Homo sapiens: one gene and its partners. The protein of the gene in region 4 purifies or fractionates together with the protein of the main gene of each other region. This does not show direct contact. Each region holds a gene or a part of one and is shown on either strand. Other genes may lie near its edges. The genes, in order: RCBTB2, ZBTB17, RBPJ and RUNX3.

Region 1 (3,772 bases), on a different chromosome or scaffold from region 4:
TGTATTTTTAGTAGGGATGGGGTTTCACCATGTTGGCCAGGCTGGTCTCCAAACTTCTGACCTCAATTAATCCTCCCATCTCTGCCTCCCAAAATGTTGAGATTACAGGCATGAGCCACCGCGCCCAGGCTATTTTTATTTTCTTAGAGACAGAGTCTTGCTCTGTTGCTTAGGCTAATGTGCAGTGGTGCGATCATAGCTCATTAAAAAAATTATTTATTTTTTATTTTTTGAGATAAGATCTTTGTCACCCGGGCTGAGTGCAGTGGTGTGATCATGGTTCACCGCAGCCTCCACATCCTGGGTTCAAGCGATCCACCTATCTTAGCCTCCCAAGTAGCTGGGACTACAGGCGTGTACTACCACGTGTAGCTAATTTTTAAGTTTTCTGTAGAGACGGTGTCTTCCTATGTTGCCCAGGCTAGTCTCAAACTTTTGGGGGCCTCAAGCGATCCTCAAAGTGCTGGGATTACAGGTGTGAGCCACCATGCCTGGCCTTCCTAGGGTATTGATTCAATTTTATTTTACAGATGGCTAAAGAAATTATAGTTTATGAGTTTTCATTACCAAACGTTTATTGAATTTCCATGTCCTTGGTAAAGGCAAAATTAGAATGATAGCATTCTCATTTTAAGAGTTTATTTTCTTTAACATTGGGTAACCTTAATCTCTCCATCCTGAGATGATTAATTTAAGCTTAAAATCTTGAAAACCATCTTGTCAGATGGAAAAGCTGTAGCATACCAATTCATTGACAGAGTTACATGGGACCTTTTATCTTTGGTATTCCCTCCACCAAAACTTCCCCACGAAAAAATTCCCATCAAAGTCTAGCCATGCATATGTTGGTATCCATAACACATTAAAATAGTACTGTCTTCTGCATGTTTTAAAATGTTATCAAATATCAAATGTTATCAAATGATACCATATGTATCATTTTGTGACTTAGTGATTTTGGTGAACATTGTTTTGTAGATATACCTGTTTTGATTCTAGATAATTTATTTTAATAGCTATATAGTATGCATATGCCACAGTTTATTGGTTTTGTTGATCAATTTGTTCTTTCTTGCTTTTTGCTATTGGGAATATTTGTGTGTATGCTCTAGAGTTTATCTAGGGCAGTGTTGCTAAAATTGCAGGACTTGTTAGTGATCTGGAAATTAGTGGGCTGAGATCAGCATTTTCTTTTAAAATGAAATTGAACAAGATAAAATAGGATAGAGTAGGGTAGAATAAAATAGCATAAAGTAGAAAAATGGAAAAGATATCAAGCATCTCATGTAGGAGGAGTAAGAATTATTTTGTGAAATTTCAGTTATATATACATATATAACTGAATATATATATATATATATATATATATATATATATATATATATATATCATGAATCCTTTGCTCACTTTTGAATTGTGTCGTTTGTTTTATTCTTACTGATTTGCAGGCATTCTTTATATATTTTGTGTATGGATCCTTTCCAAGCTGTCCATTATGCATGTTACAAATATCTTCCCCCATTCTGTGGCATATTTTTCCTTTTGTTCAAGTTTACTGCTCTTTTCTTTGTGTTTTATGCTTTCCTGTCTTATGTATGAAATCTTTAACTGCTCTGAGGTCATAAATATATTTCTATACTTCTAAAAGTTTGAAAGTTTTGCTTTTTTTTACATTTCCACATGGATTCTCTTTTATTTTCCATATGGAAATACTATAGATTAAATTCTCCTTAGTGTGCATTTTTTCATGTGTTTCAGTGTCCAAATTGTTGAAACCCTCTCCTGAAGCTTATAAAGTATGATATTCTAAAGTTACATTTTATAACTTTAGTATTTTTATAATAGAGCATCTCTGCTGCTGACTTTTTAATAGTAGATAGCACAGATACAATTTTTAAGCTGTATTTTTCTCAGATAAAGAATGGATTGTTAAATGTGCAAGACAGTATATTCTTTTCCTTCTGTTTTTCTCTAATAGAATTTATTTGTGTATTTATATTTCCAGTCACATTAACTTTGCTCTAGAAGACAACTTTACAAGGATCTAAAAGGAACAGGATTAAAGATGACTGAATACTGGGTTCCAGAAATTTAAAACAATCAGGTACAAAAGTTTTTGGAGGGAATGCTCCCAGCCAGTCAGTATAAAATAGAACTGTTGAGAATGTACACAAGAAAAACTTAAAGTATCTAGCCCTGAAATACAGTGGAGGGTCCCAAAACAAGGGCTTTGGAATAGTCCTGGTTCAAATACTGGCTCTGACACTGATTGGTTGGTGACTATTGGTCACGTTACTGAAATGTGTGAATAAAATGGAGGCAATGATTAACCTGTTTCATTTGGATATTATAAAGATTAAATAAGGTGAGGCACTTAGTGCCTGGCACAGAATAACTTTATTTTTACTGTTGTTATTGCTGTTGTTATTTAGAATACATTTTATCACATCATGGATATGGCTTTCTGTATGTATATTGTGAATTGTTATTTTAAGTATATATATCAACATATTGTTAATAGCCTGGTGAAATCACATGGATAACAGGGTAAGGTAATCTCCACGTGTAGTGCACAAACTATACATGCAAATTGGGGATGATAGTTTTCTTTATTATGTATGCATCACATTGAAATAATGTAAAAAAAAAAGCCAACCATCTCCCACAATGCTAAAAAATTCAAAACACTTTTTAATAGTATTATACAATAGTAATTAATCTTGATTTATTTTTAAATCTTGAAGGACTTTCTGATTGACAAATATGAAATTATGTTAATCTTACATTTCATTCAATTTGAATCCTGCATGTCATTTCTTTGAATGTGGTAATTTCCATGACATACATACAATTATGTCTTAACCTGATGTCAGATAAACAGAATGGCCTGTTTTCCTACCATTCTAATTTTAAAGAGTTTAATTTTACTTGAAATTGATAAAAGACACTGAAAAGAGGTTATTTCCTACTCAAAAGCCCAGGATCGGTTTTTCATGATTTTAGCACATTAGGAAGATTTCCCTTCTGCTAGGAACGAAAGGGGGCCTAGGGTAGTGCAGTGAGGGGCAGTCACATCTCTACTTGGTCCCTTCTTTTTTCTCTTCTCTCCCTCTTTCTTCTCCTCTCCTTTTATTTTTTATTCCAGTAAACTTGGGGCAAATATGGAAAAAGTGTTTCCTGATAGGGTGAGGCAGAAGGAGAGGGAACTTTGGTTACAGGCCAGTTCCAGTATACAAAAAGCTGGGTTCTAAGGATGCTTTGTATGAATACGTTGCGTTTTACTCTGAGCCATGGGCTGTGGGTTATAGCAATGAAGGAATCGTCTGCCCTTTTGAAGAACTTACCAATTAATAGAGAAGGTACATCATACAAGAATAACTGTCATATGAGGCAGAATTTGAAAAATGCCTTCAATGTAGTTAAAAACAAAACAAAAAGTGCTGTGGAAATACAGAGAAGAGGTCCCAGCCCATTTGGGTAATCAGGATCCACATTGATGTAAATCTCAGTGGCAGTCATGCTGGGTCTTAGAGAAAATTAGGATTTTAACAGATCTGCTAAGATGCCATAGATAATATGTAGTAAGTATTAATTAAAATGACAGAATATCTTTCCATATTGTCAATCAGATCGGTTTATAAATTTTTAAGTGAGAAACTTCTAAGTAATCTTCTAAAAAGCAAGCATATCTTTTTTACTTGTTTCCAAATGTTAGAAAGTAATACTTTGCTATTAATTTTCATAATTTTAAGTTATAATAATTCTGAATAAA
Region 2 (4,495 bases), 8.9 Mb from region 4:
GAAGTGCTGAATAAATGGCCTGCTCTGTGCCAGATAGCATGCTGACACTGGGACACAAAGATGCACAGACTCAGCCTCAGGCCCTGCTCTCAAGAACTCCAGCTCAATAAGAGACAGGACACAATGTTAAGAAGGAAAAACGACAAGGTTTGTATCCAAGCATTACTGCAGCATTGGCACTGCTCTGGGATATCCTGGACACTTTGTTTCTCATTGCATACCCTACCCTAGGTGAGCTCATCCCCTCCCATGACTTCAGTGACCTTTGATGGTGATAACTACTAGCTGAACAGGTGCACTTGAATGTTTTACAGGCATCCAACTCCAACATGTTCAAAACTAAACATATCTGCCCTCCCCCAGATCTGCTCCCCGTACTGCTCCCTATCACATGGAGCAGCATCCAACACCCATCAGTCAAAAACTGGGGTGATCCTGACTCCTCCCTGCCCCTAACTCTCATCAAACTAATCACCAAATTGTGTCAATTCTATCGCTAAAACCATCTCTCCTCACTCTCTGCCTTTAACTCACACCTTTATTTCTCACTTGGATTATTCTAGCAGGCTCTTAATTGGCCTACAGGCCCACTCCCTTTGATACATTCTTCACTTAGCCAGAGTGATCTTCCTAATCCACAAATCTGATTCGTGGCCAGGCATGGTTGCACATGCCTATAATCCCAGTACTTTGGGAGGCTGAGGCGGGAGGATCATTTGAGGCCAAGAGTTCGAGACCAGTCTGGGCAACATAGTGAGACCCCATCTCTACTAAAAATTTAAAAAATTAGCCAGGTGTTATGGTGCACGCCTGTAGTCCCAGCTAGTTGGGAGGCTGAGGCAGAAGGATCACTTGAGTTCAGATCAAGGCTGCAGTGAACTATGATTATGCTGCCACTGCACTCCAGCCTGGGTGACAGAGCAAGACGTAGTCTCAAAAAAAAAAAACAAAAACAAAAACAAAAAAAACCTGATTCTTTTATTTCAGGCTGGAAATAAAAGAATCCTCCCACCTCAGCCTTCCAAGAAGCTGGGACCACCAGAGGTGTACTCCACCATGCCCGGCTATTTTTTTTTTCCTTTTTTTTTTTTTTTCTTTTAATAAAGATGGGGTCTTGCCATGTTGCCCAGGCTTGTCTCAAACTCCTGGGCTCAAATGATCATCCCACGTTGGCCTCCCAAAGTGCTAGAATTACAGAGTAAGCCACCGCACCTGGCCACAGATCTGATTCTTAAATGGCTTCCCATTAACCTAAAGTTTAAAGTCCTTAACTAGGTTTACAACGTCCCCTAAGACCAGACCACAGCTTGCTGCTGCTTTTTTTTTTTTTCTTTTTTGAGACGGAATCTCGCTCTGTCGCCCAGGCTGGAGTGCAGTGGCGCCGTTTCGGCTCACTGCAACCTCCGCCTCCTGCGTTCGAGCGATTCTCATACCTCAGCCTCCTGAGCAGCTGGGACTACAGGCGCGCGCAAGCACGACCGGCTAATTTTTGTATTTTTAGTAGAGACGGGGGTTTCACCATATTGGCCAGGCTGGTCTCGAACTCCTGACCTCAAGTGATCTGCCCGCCTGGGCCTCCCAAAGTGCTGAGATTACAAGCGTGAGACAACGAGCCCGGCCCAGTCTGCTTCTTTATTTAGCCTGATCTCTCTCTCCTCTCTCTACGAAGATGAGTTTTCTCACAAACTACACCCTTAACTGGGAATACCCGTTTTCCTGCCTCACTCCGCTGAGCTTCCCTTAGATCTTAGCTTTCTGGGGGACAGAAGCCTCCCGGGATTCCCCCTAGGCTGAGTGATGTGTCTCTACTCCGTGCTTCAGAGGAAGGAGGGCTTTCTGCCCTCGCAGCAGTATCAGAATTGCTGATTTACCTGTATGTCTCCCACATGGGTCTCTGAGCTCTGGGTGACAATGGTGATACAATTAATAACAGCAACAAACACACAGCATTTACTTTGTACCCATAAGTGTTCTAGGAGCCTCATTTCCCCTTTATTACAATCTTAGGAGGCTGATTTTATTATCATCTCTGCTTAAAGGATGAATAAACCCAGGCAGAGAGAAAAAGCCAAAAGTGCCTAAGGTCACAGCAGGGAATGGGGATTCAAACCCCGCTGCTGGGCTCCACGGTTCACACTCCTAACTCCAGGATCGAGGATCCTGGAGGATCGAGTCCGCCCGCATCACTCGCTCTAGCTTCACCATCTATCAGGTGCTGAACCACCGTCCGCAGTACGAATGAATGAATGAAATGCTTTTATACAGGGACAGCGTCGGCCTCCTCTGTCAGCTCCTCCTAGGCCCGGGCAGCCCCGCTCCCTCCCGCCCCGGCCGGCCGACAGGAGCTGCCCCGGCACTGCGCTCCCTCGCGGCCGCAGAACGCCCACCCTCGACAGCGCGCGGGGTCAAGGGGCGGTGACAGCCGTGCGGCGGGGGCGGAGATGCTACCAGCTGGGGTGTCATCCAGCCCGGGAGGTGACACGCGCCCCCTCGCCCGGGCGGTCGCCTGGCCGCCCACTCCCCGCCAGCACGCCCGGCGACGCCCCCCGCCCCGCCACCCCACAATCTCCCGCCCAGCGGTGTCCCCTCAGCCCCGGTTGGCGTCCCATTCCACTTCCCTCCCCTCCCCCACACAACCGTCACCGGCGTCCCACCGCGCCCCATCCTCCGCCGCCTCCGCCCCGGCTCCCGGGACTTCCCCGGCCCCGGGCGATTGTTGACACTCACCTGCCATGTCCCGGACCCCACCGCAGAGGGAGGTGCATCACGGCCGCGAGAAGGCCGGGGACGGCACTCCAGAGCAGACAAAGGGCGCCGCCATGTTAGAGTCGGGCGGAACCGACCTCGCAGGCTTCCCGGCTGCAACTTCCGGCGCATGCGCAGCGTCCTCGCTAGGAGAGCGCCCATAGACAGACGCATGCGCCTAGCTATCCAAAAGTTCCACCTTACAGTACTTCGGCGCTCAGAGTTGTCCTCATTGTACCCCTGCCTTGGTTTCTCTTCCAAATATAACAGTAACATCATGTGTTCAGCTCTTACTGTGTGCCAGGCACTGTGTTAAGCGCTTTACATGCATTATCTCTTTAAATCCTCACACCAATTATAAGATAGTATTATTCTCCTAATTTTAAAAAAGGGAAAACAGACTCAAAAAGTGTAAATCAATGTCCATGGTCACATATCTTGTAAGTGGTGGACCGGAGATATGAATCTACTTGTGGCTTCAAAGCTGCAGATCCCAGTTGTGTTTTTCTACCTTCTAAACCGAACATTATCCCCTTCCCTGATTGTCTTGGACGTGAATAAAGGTGTCTGAAAACAAAAGTGTCTGCAGACTTGCATGGCCCCTCCGTGGCCCCTCTTCTACCTTTTTGGTAGCTCTAGGCCACTGACTTCTCCACTTTCTCACAGTCTGAGGGCTTTCTCCTTTGTTTACTTCTAGGCCTGCATATTTTCCATAATCTATAATTTTAACAACACTCTTGCCACTACTGTAAGCTCTTTTGCCCCCTTGCCTTTTTGTCACATGGATTTGGTAAGAATACCAACGCTGTGTGAATCCAAATGCACCTTTTCTCTTTGTTAGCTCCCAAACAGCCAAGCACAGCTGAAGAAAGTATGCAGTGGGGAGACTGTTCCCTAGAGATTCATGTCCACTAGCCTTCAGTGGGATGCAACATATGCCAATCTGGCAACTCACTCCTGTCTTCACAATGGCTAGAGAAACAAAAAAGCCCAGCAGTTGACTTCACCCCTTCTTGTCTTTAGGTTTTTTTTTTTTTTTTGGAGACAGAGTCTCACTCTGTCTTCCAGGCTGGAGTGCAGTGGCGCTGTCTCGGTTCACTGCAAGCTCCGCCTCCCGGGTTCACGCCATTCTCCTGTCTCAGCCTCCAGAGTAGCTGGGACTACAGGCGCCCGCCACAACACCTGGCTAATTTTTTGTATTTTTAGTAGAGACGGGGTTTCACCATGTTAGCCAGGATGGTCTCGATCTTCTGACCTCGTGATCCACCTGCCTCAGCCTCCCAAAGTGCTGGGATTACAGGCGTGAGCCGCCGTGCCCGGCCGTCTTTCTTTTCTTTCTTTTTTTTTTTTTTAGATGGGGTCTCGCTATGTTGCCCGGCTGGACTGAAACCCCTAGGCTTAAGCATCCCATTTCAACCTCCCCAGTAGCTGAGACTACAGGCATGTGCACCCACAACTGGCTAACTTCACCCGTTCTTTTTAACTATATTTTTAATTTTTATTTCAGTAGTTTTTGGGGAACACATGGTGTTTGGTTACATGGATAAGTTCTTTAGTGATGATTTCTGTGATTTTGGGGGACCCATGACCTGAACAGTGTACATTCTACCCAAGGTGTAGTCTTTTTTTTTTTTTTTTTTTTTTTTTGAGATGGAGTCTTGCTCTGTTGCCCAGGCTGGAGTGCAGTGGCGCCATCTGGGCTCACTGCAAGTTCCGCCTCCCAGGTTCACGCCATTCTCCTGACTCAGCC
Region 3 (3,772 bases), on a different chromosome or scaffold from region 4:
AGGATTGCTTGCATGTCTGAGGATTGTGTGTTAAGGATGCTCATACCTGAGATAAATATCTGTGTATAGCTTCATGTATTTGTATATAATTAACAGCAAATGAAAATTTCATATTTTTGCAAGCTGCTAACCTCACAGTTTGTACATTTTAGATTTCACCAGTAATTTAAAAACATACCTGAAATTGAATTATTCTTTCTTGAGAAAGGCACAAATACATTCTTTCTGTATCCTTAAGGTAAAATGCACATTTATGGAGTTGTGACACAGGATCATCTGCATCCAATAATGCGGTCTGCTTATCAACTTTCCTAATTATCTATATTTAACAATTAAGAAATAAAAGGTCATCCACACATGGAAAGGATTTTCCTTGTGTAAAACATCAAAAGTACATAGAAGCTATATACTGCATAATAATACATCACAGTTATTTGTCCTATGCCTACATATATAAAAACATTCACAAACAAAAAGACTAGGAATAAAAAACACTTTTAGATTGCAAGCATGTCAGAATGTAGAAACTGTTACCCTCTTCCCTGAACATCTAAAAAAAAAAAATCAGGCAGGCAGGCACTTGTTTTCTAGATCAGTGTTTTTCAAACATTAATGTGCACATAAATGAGCTGGGGTTCTTGTGAAAAACACAGGTTCTGATCTAGCAGGACTCTTGTGGGGCCTGATATTCTGCATTTCTAACAAAATCCCAGTTGATGTTAATGCTGCTGGCCTACAGACCATATTTTGAACAGCAAGTTCTAATGATATTTTCCAATAATATGCATAAAATGACAAATACTCCAACATCAAAGGGAAAAATCTCTAGAAGGCTACTGTCAGTGCAAACGTCTTATATCTATTATCCAAAACTTACGTATTTAAAAACATAACAAAATCAAACTCATTTTACAGATTACAAAATGGGCTTAGAAAGGTCAGACAAATTGCTCAAAATTACCAGTTTAGTAGCTGAAGGACCAGAATATGTCCTGATCCCAGGGCTGGCTGCCTGTCCAACTGATCTCTAAAGCTTATAACGCAACTAGTCTACAAAACACATGAATATCTGAAAGATAATACTATCAAACCCTATATGACACTTGACACCTAGAAGGTAATGGCTAAGTAGATGATCATGATGAAGAGCAAAATTTGACACAGAACTTTTACTCTGTTTCCTTTTCTATTGATCACTTCCAACAACATACAAACATAACTATCTCTCATCTCAAAATCAAAAGTAAAGAAAACACTGACTACATGCTCCTGTCCCTCCCTCTCACTACCTGTTTTTCTGCAAACGCCTCTTCCTCACTGTCCAATCTCCTGCAATCTCTCCAACCTTTTATCTCAAAGACGCCACTACAACTGCTTTTCAAAGCCACCAAGGATTTCCAGACAGATGCATCTCACGGCACTTTTCTGTCCTCATTTTACTTCATTTTCTCAGAAGCTCTCAACACATTTTGCTTTCAGGACCACAACTGCTCCAACTGACCTTTAAAATGCCCAGAGCTGAGTTCTCAGCCCTCTTTTCCTCTCTTTATAATCTATACTGTTTAAAAATTTAAAGGTTGACAACTCCCAAATTTATTATCTCCAGACTTCTCTCCTGCATTCAACTTGTATGTACACTTAACTACCTATTCAACATTTCCACTTACGATGTCTAACAGGCACCTCAAGCTTAGCATATCGAAAACAGATTTTTGGATTTCCTCCTAAACTTGATCCTTCCCCAACTCATCTAGGTCAATAAATGGCACTAGCATTCACTCAATCCAAAAACCTTAAGAGTCACCCTTGATGCCTTGCTTTCTCTCACACCCAACCATCCAATCTGCCAGCAAATTCTGTCAGGTCCACTTTCCAACAAATCAGTCACCCCTCACCACCTTAATACTATGATCCTGGGTCTAAGATAGCATCAACTCTTGCCTCAATTATGACAACAATCCAAGCACCTGTCTCTCTGCTTCCACGGCCGCATTGCTATGCTCTCTTCTCCACACAGCAGCCACACATATACTTCTAAACAAAAATAGGCCATCGTGCCCCGTTTAAAATCCTCCAGTGGCCTTCTAACATGCAGAGATAATATGAAGTCCTTACCCTAGATACAGAGAGGGATCCTACAAGGTCTTGCTTAGTGCTAACCTTACAGATTCAGTTCCTGCCACTTGACCTCTCCTCCCTCCGCTCCAGCTCCACTGGTTTCTTTACTAGTCATCATACATCCCCTGCCTTCAGTTCTGTACTTGTTCTGTTTGCCTGAAATGCTCCTCACTCAATTACCGGTTCTTTGACTTCATTCTGGGCTCTCTTCAAATACTGCGACTTCAAAAAGACTTCCCTGACCTCTCTAAGCGCTCCTCCAATTCTCTATCCCTTTATTATCTTGTTTTGTTTTTTCATCACTACATAAATCCTTTACATGGGTATTTGGCTTATCACTCTATCAAAATGTAAACTCAATGACGAGAGGCACTCGACTTTGCATGTCAGAATTCCTGTCATGAAACCCCTGGAAAGATTTATGTATCAGCGTCTTAATAATGGTACTGCAACTTTTTCTAATAAGTTAATTTTTCATTGCAACATTTTTATATAAAGCCATACAGTTTTGAGTGTAAAAACCTCAATTAATGACTTTCAAGCAAGGCAGGCTACTGGTACTTTACAAACAACTGTAAATGAAAACATTGTTTTAAATTTGGGTCTGTCTTCTAAGTGGTTTGTATTATAAACTATTGGTGATCAGAATCATCCTCCTAAGTTGTGCTTCTGCAGTACAAGCATTTAACACCAAAGCAAATGAACATCATCCTTGGAACAGAGGAAATGAATGAGAAGAGAAAAAAAATGAATAAATGCTGATTCAGATTTTTTGCTTGCTTCTGTCTCCTGCTCTGTTTTTCATGCCCTTCATTCCCTAACGTTACCCTTTTTATTATAATTTGTCTCAGCTGCAAAGCTTTACAGATTACTATTACTATACTTCATGTCTTCTAGCTTATTGCATTGACATGGGAAATAAAATCACCTTGTACAATCATGACAGAGGGTAAAAAAAAAAAACAGTAACAAAGAAATGAATCACTGGCTTAGAAAACTGTAGATCAAACCAGCCTCTGCTGAAATGACCCCAGAAAATATAAGCCAGTGGAATATTGCACCAAAAAGATAAATAGGAGGCATGTTTAGGAACATTAATACTAAATGTTCTTCTACTCACCCAACCTCTTCAGTCTGACCTTGAATCAAACTTACTCATAAATCCCCTTCATCTTGAATATAAGTAAATTATATTGTTTGAGAAAAGGAGAGGGAAAATTGGGAGGGTGGTGGCACTATAGAGGACTTTTGTTTTCATTTTACTAACAAAAGTAGTTTTTACAATTTCAAGATCTCCTTTTCTGTGGTTGTTGAGATAGGATCTCATTCTGTTGCCCAGGCTAAAGTCCAGTGGTACGATCACCGCTCATTGCAGCCTTGACCTCCCGAGCTCAAGTGATCCTCCCACTTAAGCTTGAGACTACAGGTGTGCACCACCATGCCTGGCTAATTTTTTTTTTGGGGGGGCGGGGTCAGTGGTAAAGACGGTCTGACCATGTTGCCAGGACTAGTCTCGAACTCCTGAGCTCAAGTGATGCCAGGGCTAGTCACTTCTCCTTCTCCTGCCTTCACCTGTTGAAGTGCTGGGATTGCAGGTGTGAGTCACCATGCGTGGCCGAGTTTCAATGTCTTCTATTGAACAAAAGCCCTAAAT
Region 4 (3,772 bases):
TGCTCGTGCCCGAGGGCGTGGCGCTGTAGGGGAAGGCAGCTGACATGGCCCCGGGATAATGCATCCTGGGGTCTGGGAAGCGGCTCTCCGTGAGGGTTGGCAGCGTGGGGAAGGAGCGGTCAAACTGGCGGGGGTCGGAGAATGGGTTCAGTTCCGAGGTGCCTGGAGGACAGCAGGGAAGAGGTCAGTTCCAGCTCGAGACAACCCCAGGAGGGCTTCCTGAAGAATGACCTTGGGCTCTGGTTCCCAAGGCCCATCTGGGGGACCCCTAGTTCTAGACCTGGCTCTCCTCTTCCTGCCCTAGGCTGCCCGGGGCCTCCCCCGCCAGGACTCCGAACACAGACCTGCCGGGAAGCTGGTTGGAGCGTGCCCCGGGCCAAGAGGGGCCATGGGAGCCCCCCCACAGCAGCAACAGAACAGAGGAGGGGGTCTATTCTTCTTTTTAAATCCTCCTTCCCAGCCTCGCAGAGGAGAGGCCTAGGATGCGGTGGTGGGGCTGAGGGCAGAGTCAGCTCAGGCCTCCCAGCAGCCCTGCCCAGGCAGGTTCCTCTCCCCACCGGCCCATGTTAACAGCTGGGAAGGCCGTGGATGTGTAAAGGGCTCCAATGACCGTGTGAGACTGGGAGTTGGAACCCGCTTTTGAAGACAAGAAAATGGAGGCAGAGAGAGAGCAAGACTGAGTCTCTGTGGCAGAGAAAGGACTGGTTCTCATCACAAGGCCTCTGCTGGGGACACACGTGCCTCTCCTGCCCAGGTGCAGCACGCGGAGGTTCTGTGCGCTCACACCTGGGTTGTGGGCACTGAGTTCACAGGAGCTCTGGCCTCCACCTCACCCTGGGCCTGTGTCTCTGGAGCCGACTCGTGGCCACACAGTGACTGGATGCCACCCTAACCTGCCTTGGCAGCAAAGTGAGACAGCAGTCAGACAAACTTGGGGACCCAGACCCCAACCTGGTCACAGTGTCCAGCCCAGACTCTGCCCCTGCTCCCCCAGGAATGTGGCTTCTCAATGGGCTCCAAGGCAAGGGTGTTCCATCCTCTGTCCCCAACTTTTGTCATCACAGACCCCCAAAACCTCAGCATTCAAAGGGGCTCAGGGATTGAGTCTAACACCCTTGATGGGGAAACTGAGGCCCAGACAGGGTGAGGCACTTCCCTCAGGGTCACACAGCACATTGGACCTGGCACACAATCCTAGGGCCTCTGGTCCTGAGCCCCAACACGTACTTGAGAGGGAGCTGTCCCGTCTTTGAGGCAGCACAGGATCAAGGCTTACTGTGTGGCTTCTGGAGCCGGACAGTTATCCTGGTTTGGACACTTACTAGCTTTGTGTCCTTGGGCAAGTCACTTAACCTCTCTGCGCATCAGTTTCCCCATATAAAACATGAGACGATAACAGTTCATCAGGATTCAGTTAATTCACATCGAGTACTTAGAATGGCACTGGGCACAGAGCAGGGGTCCATGAGGCTTTGCAAGGCCACTGTGGCTGTGGTGTCTCTTACTCTGGGTACCCAGGAGAACTGGCTCATTCAGGGCCCTGCCAAGTTGAGGCCCTGGTGCAGGGCCTCCCTTCTACTCTGGCAGCCGGGGGAGGTGGATGAGCCCCCAGCAGTGGTCCAGAGGTGCAGTCTGTCCAGCCCAGCAACCCCTCTGTGTCACCCACCAAAGGATAAGGGCCGGTGCTAGCCGGAGTGGGCTCTGCCTGCCACGCCGAGGCTTGGCTGAGGACGGAGAGCTATGAGCCTGAGGTGTGTGTGACTTCGGCTGGGACTTGGAACTTCTCGGGGCTTTGGGGTCTTCCCAAGTCAGCTGGGGTATGTTTCCCTCAGCAGCGTACTCTGGCCCTGGGCGTGGATCCGAACGGAGTGATGCTCCTGGCTTAAGGTAAGAAGATGTGGGGACAGCAGTCTGGGTGGCGGGGGCCTTCTGGGACATCTGGGATGTTCCCTAGTAGGTCACTTGGCTGTCCCGGCCCCTTGAGGCCGAGAGCCTCCGAGGCACCTGGCTGCCAGTTTTCATCTGGGGAGCCCCTCGGGGGGAGAGGTCCTGTTGCAGGTGCTGGGCACGTCAGCACAGCTGAGATGGGTGGGGTGGAAGTGGGTGCTGGCCGCCTGATGGGAACCCCATTCTCAAGACGAAGGAAACAAATGGGGACCGCAGGATACAACGGCAGGACTGTGCCCCTCAGAGCTCACGCGGGCTGCAGGGCGCTGGGCTGGGCCTCCCTGGACCTGCCACCATCCCCTCCAGCCTCTTTCCTCAGGGCCACCACCCCTCCTCCGGGGTGGTGGGGGAAGTACCTGCCCTCAGCACTCCCTCAGACCCCCCAGCAGCTTCCTTGGAGCTCCTGTACCCCCACCCTGCGGCCTCGCAGCCCCAGGAAACCCGAGCTGCCCGGGGCACTGTCGAGTGGCCAATCCCAACAGTGGAAAGAAATGTTTATTTTCTTCTCCAGATTGTCCGGGCTGCTGCATGGTGGCTGAATGAGCCCTTTCAGCTGTGAGAAGCCCCCATTGTGGGCGGCTGCGGCTGGGGGCTGGGGCTGGGGTATGGGAGGTGCTGGGGTCTCTGCACTGCTTGCCAGTGACCAATATTGGAGGGTCAAAGCACTTAACAGGCACCGAGGGAAGTGGTGGTGGGGTGTCCCAAGGGGGATCCCCAGGAGGGAGTCCGAGGGCAGAGGGAGGAGGGCCTGTGAGAGTGACTTCCCAAGCCTAGGTCTGCCAGCAACCCCTCTTTGTCAGGGACCTCCTTCTCCCCACTTCACAGATGAGAAAACTGAGGCTGAGTTTAAGTGACTTGTCTAAGATCATACAGCCAATGCCTGGCAGAGCCTGAATTCCTAGCCTGGTCCAGCTGACTGCAGAGTTCATGCTCGCCCTGTCCTGGTCATCCGAGGCCCTTTCTCTCACCCAAAGGGGATGGGCCTGAGGATGGAGATGCCTGGCTGCCTGTGGCCCAGTGCTGTGGGGGGCTAGCGAGGGACTGGGCCAGGCCTCAGGAGGGAGCAGGCAGAGAAGCAGAAGTCAGCCACTGCCCCACACAGGCTGGGCTCCTTTCCTCCCAGCCCAGGATGGAAGCAGCAGCTGTGCCTGCCGTGGGGCCAGGCATTGATTCCCAAGCTGTGCCCACCCAGCAGTGGATGGGCAGATGTGGGCTCTCCTTCCATGGGGGCTGGTGGACAGGAAGCCACTGTTCACCCCACCTCCTGGATTCTGGCTCCCCCGCTGAGCCCCGATCCCCTGGCCTGGCTCTGTCCATGGCAGAGAAAGGCTGGCTCTCAGGCTACTGCACCTCGACAGATGCTGGCCCATGGGTAGCAGAAGCAGAGGCAGCTACGCGGCAGGGGTGGGCGTGAGCACAGCGTGCAGGGCTCCTTCCGCTACCTCTTGAGAGCAGACCTCCAACTCCTGGGCTCGAGAGCTGAGAGTCTCAAATGCACTAGCTCCTGGGCTCAGAGAGGCTGGGCCTGGGGCTTCTCCCAACCTTGGCGTCTCAGCAGGACCAAGGCCAAAAGTCCTGAGCCCAGGCCAGAAGGGGAGGGGTCCTCTCTTCACACTGAAGGCCTGCATCCAGCCCCTGGCTGCAGCACTATGCCTGGAACAATGTCAGTAGAGAGACCCAGTCGGCCCCCACCTCAGCGTGGCACCGGAAAAGGGGGTGGGGCAGGCAGACCGGTTGGCAGCCCTGTTCCAGGCCCCTTTATCTGTCCCCTCAGAAGTACAGAAAGTTCTTGGGAGCAGGTACTGTGGAGACTGTGGACCTGGTC

What was found.
Region 1: the proteins of RUNX3 (region 4) and RCBTB2 purify together in Homo sapiens (affinity purification with mass spectrometry; one large-scale study listed by BioGRID and IntAct). This does not show direct contact.
Region 2: the proteins of RUNX3 (region 4) and ZBTB17 purify together in Homo sapiens (affinity purification with western blotting, with the first as the bait; one study listed by BioGRID). This does not show direct contact.
Region 3: the proteins of RUNX3 (region 4) and RBPJ purify together in Homo sapiens (affinity purification with western blotting; one study listed by BioGRID). This does not show direct contact.

Annotation. Positions count from the first base shown.
Region 1 is NC_000013.11:48,522,991-48,526,762, reverse strand, and holds part of RCBTB2 (RCC1 and BTB domain-containing protein 2), read left to right. Parts: intron 1-2,005; 5' UTR 2,006-2,104; intron 2,105-3,772.
Region 2 is NC_000001.11:15,973,256-15,977,750, forward strand, and holds the start of ZBTB17 (zinc finger and BTB domain-containing protein 17), read right to left. Parts: upstream 2,847-4,495; 5' UTR 2,728-2,846; intron 1-2,727. UniProt on the Homo sapiens protein: Transcription factor that can function as an activator or repressor depending on its binding partners, and by targeting negative regulators of cell cycle progression.
Region 3 is NC_000004.12:26,425,267-26,429,038, reverse strand, and holds part of RBPJ (recombining binding protein suppressor of hairless), read right to left. Parts: intron 320-3,772; coding exon 179-319; intron 1-178. UniProt on the Homo sapiens protein: Transcriptional regulator that plays a central role in Notch signaling, a signaling pathway involved in cell-cell communication that regulates a broad spectrum of cell-fate determinations.
Region 4 is NC_000001.11:24,902,505-24,906,276, forward strand, and holds part of RUNX3 (runt-related transcription factor 3), read right to left. Parts: intron 163-3,772; coding exon 1-162. UniProt on the Homo sapiens protein: Forms the heterodimeric complex core-binding factor (CBF) with CBFB.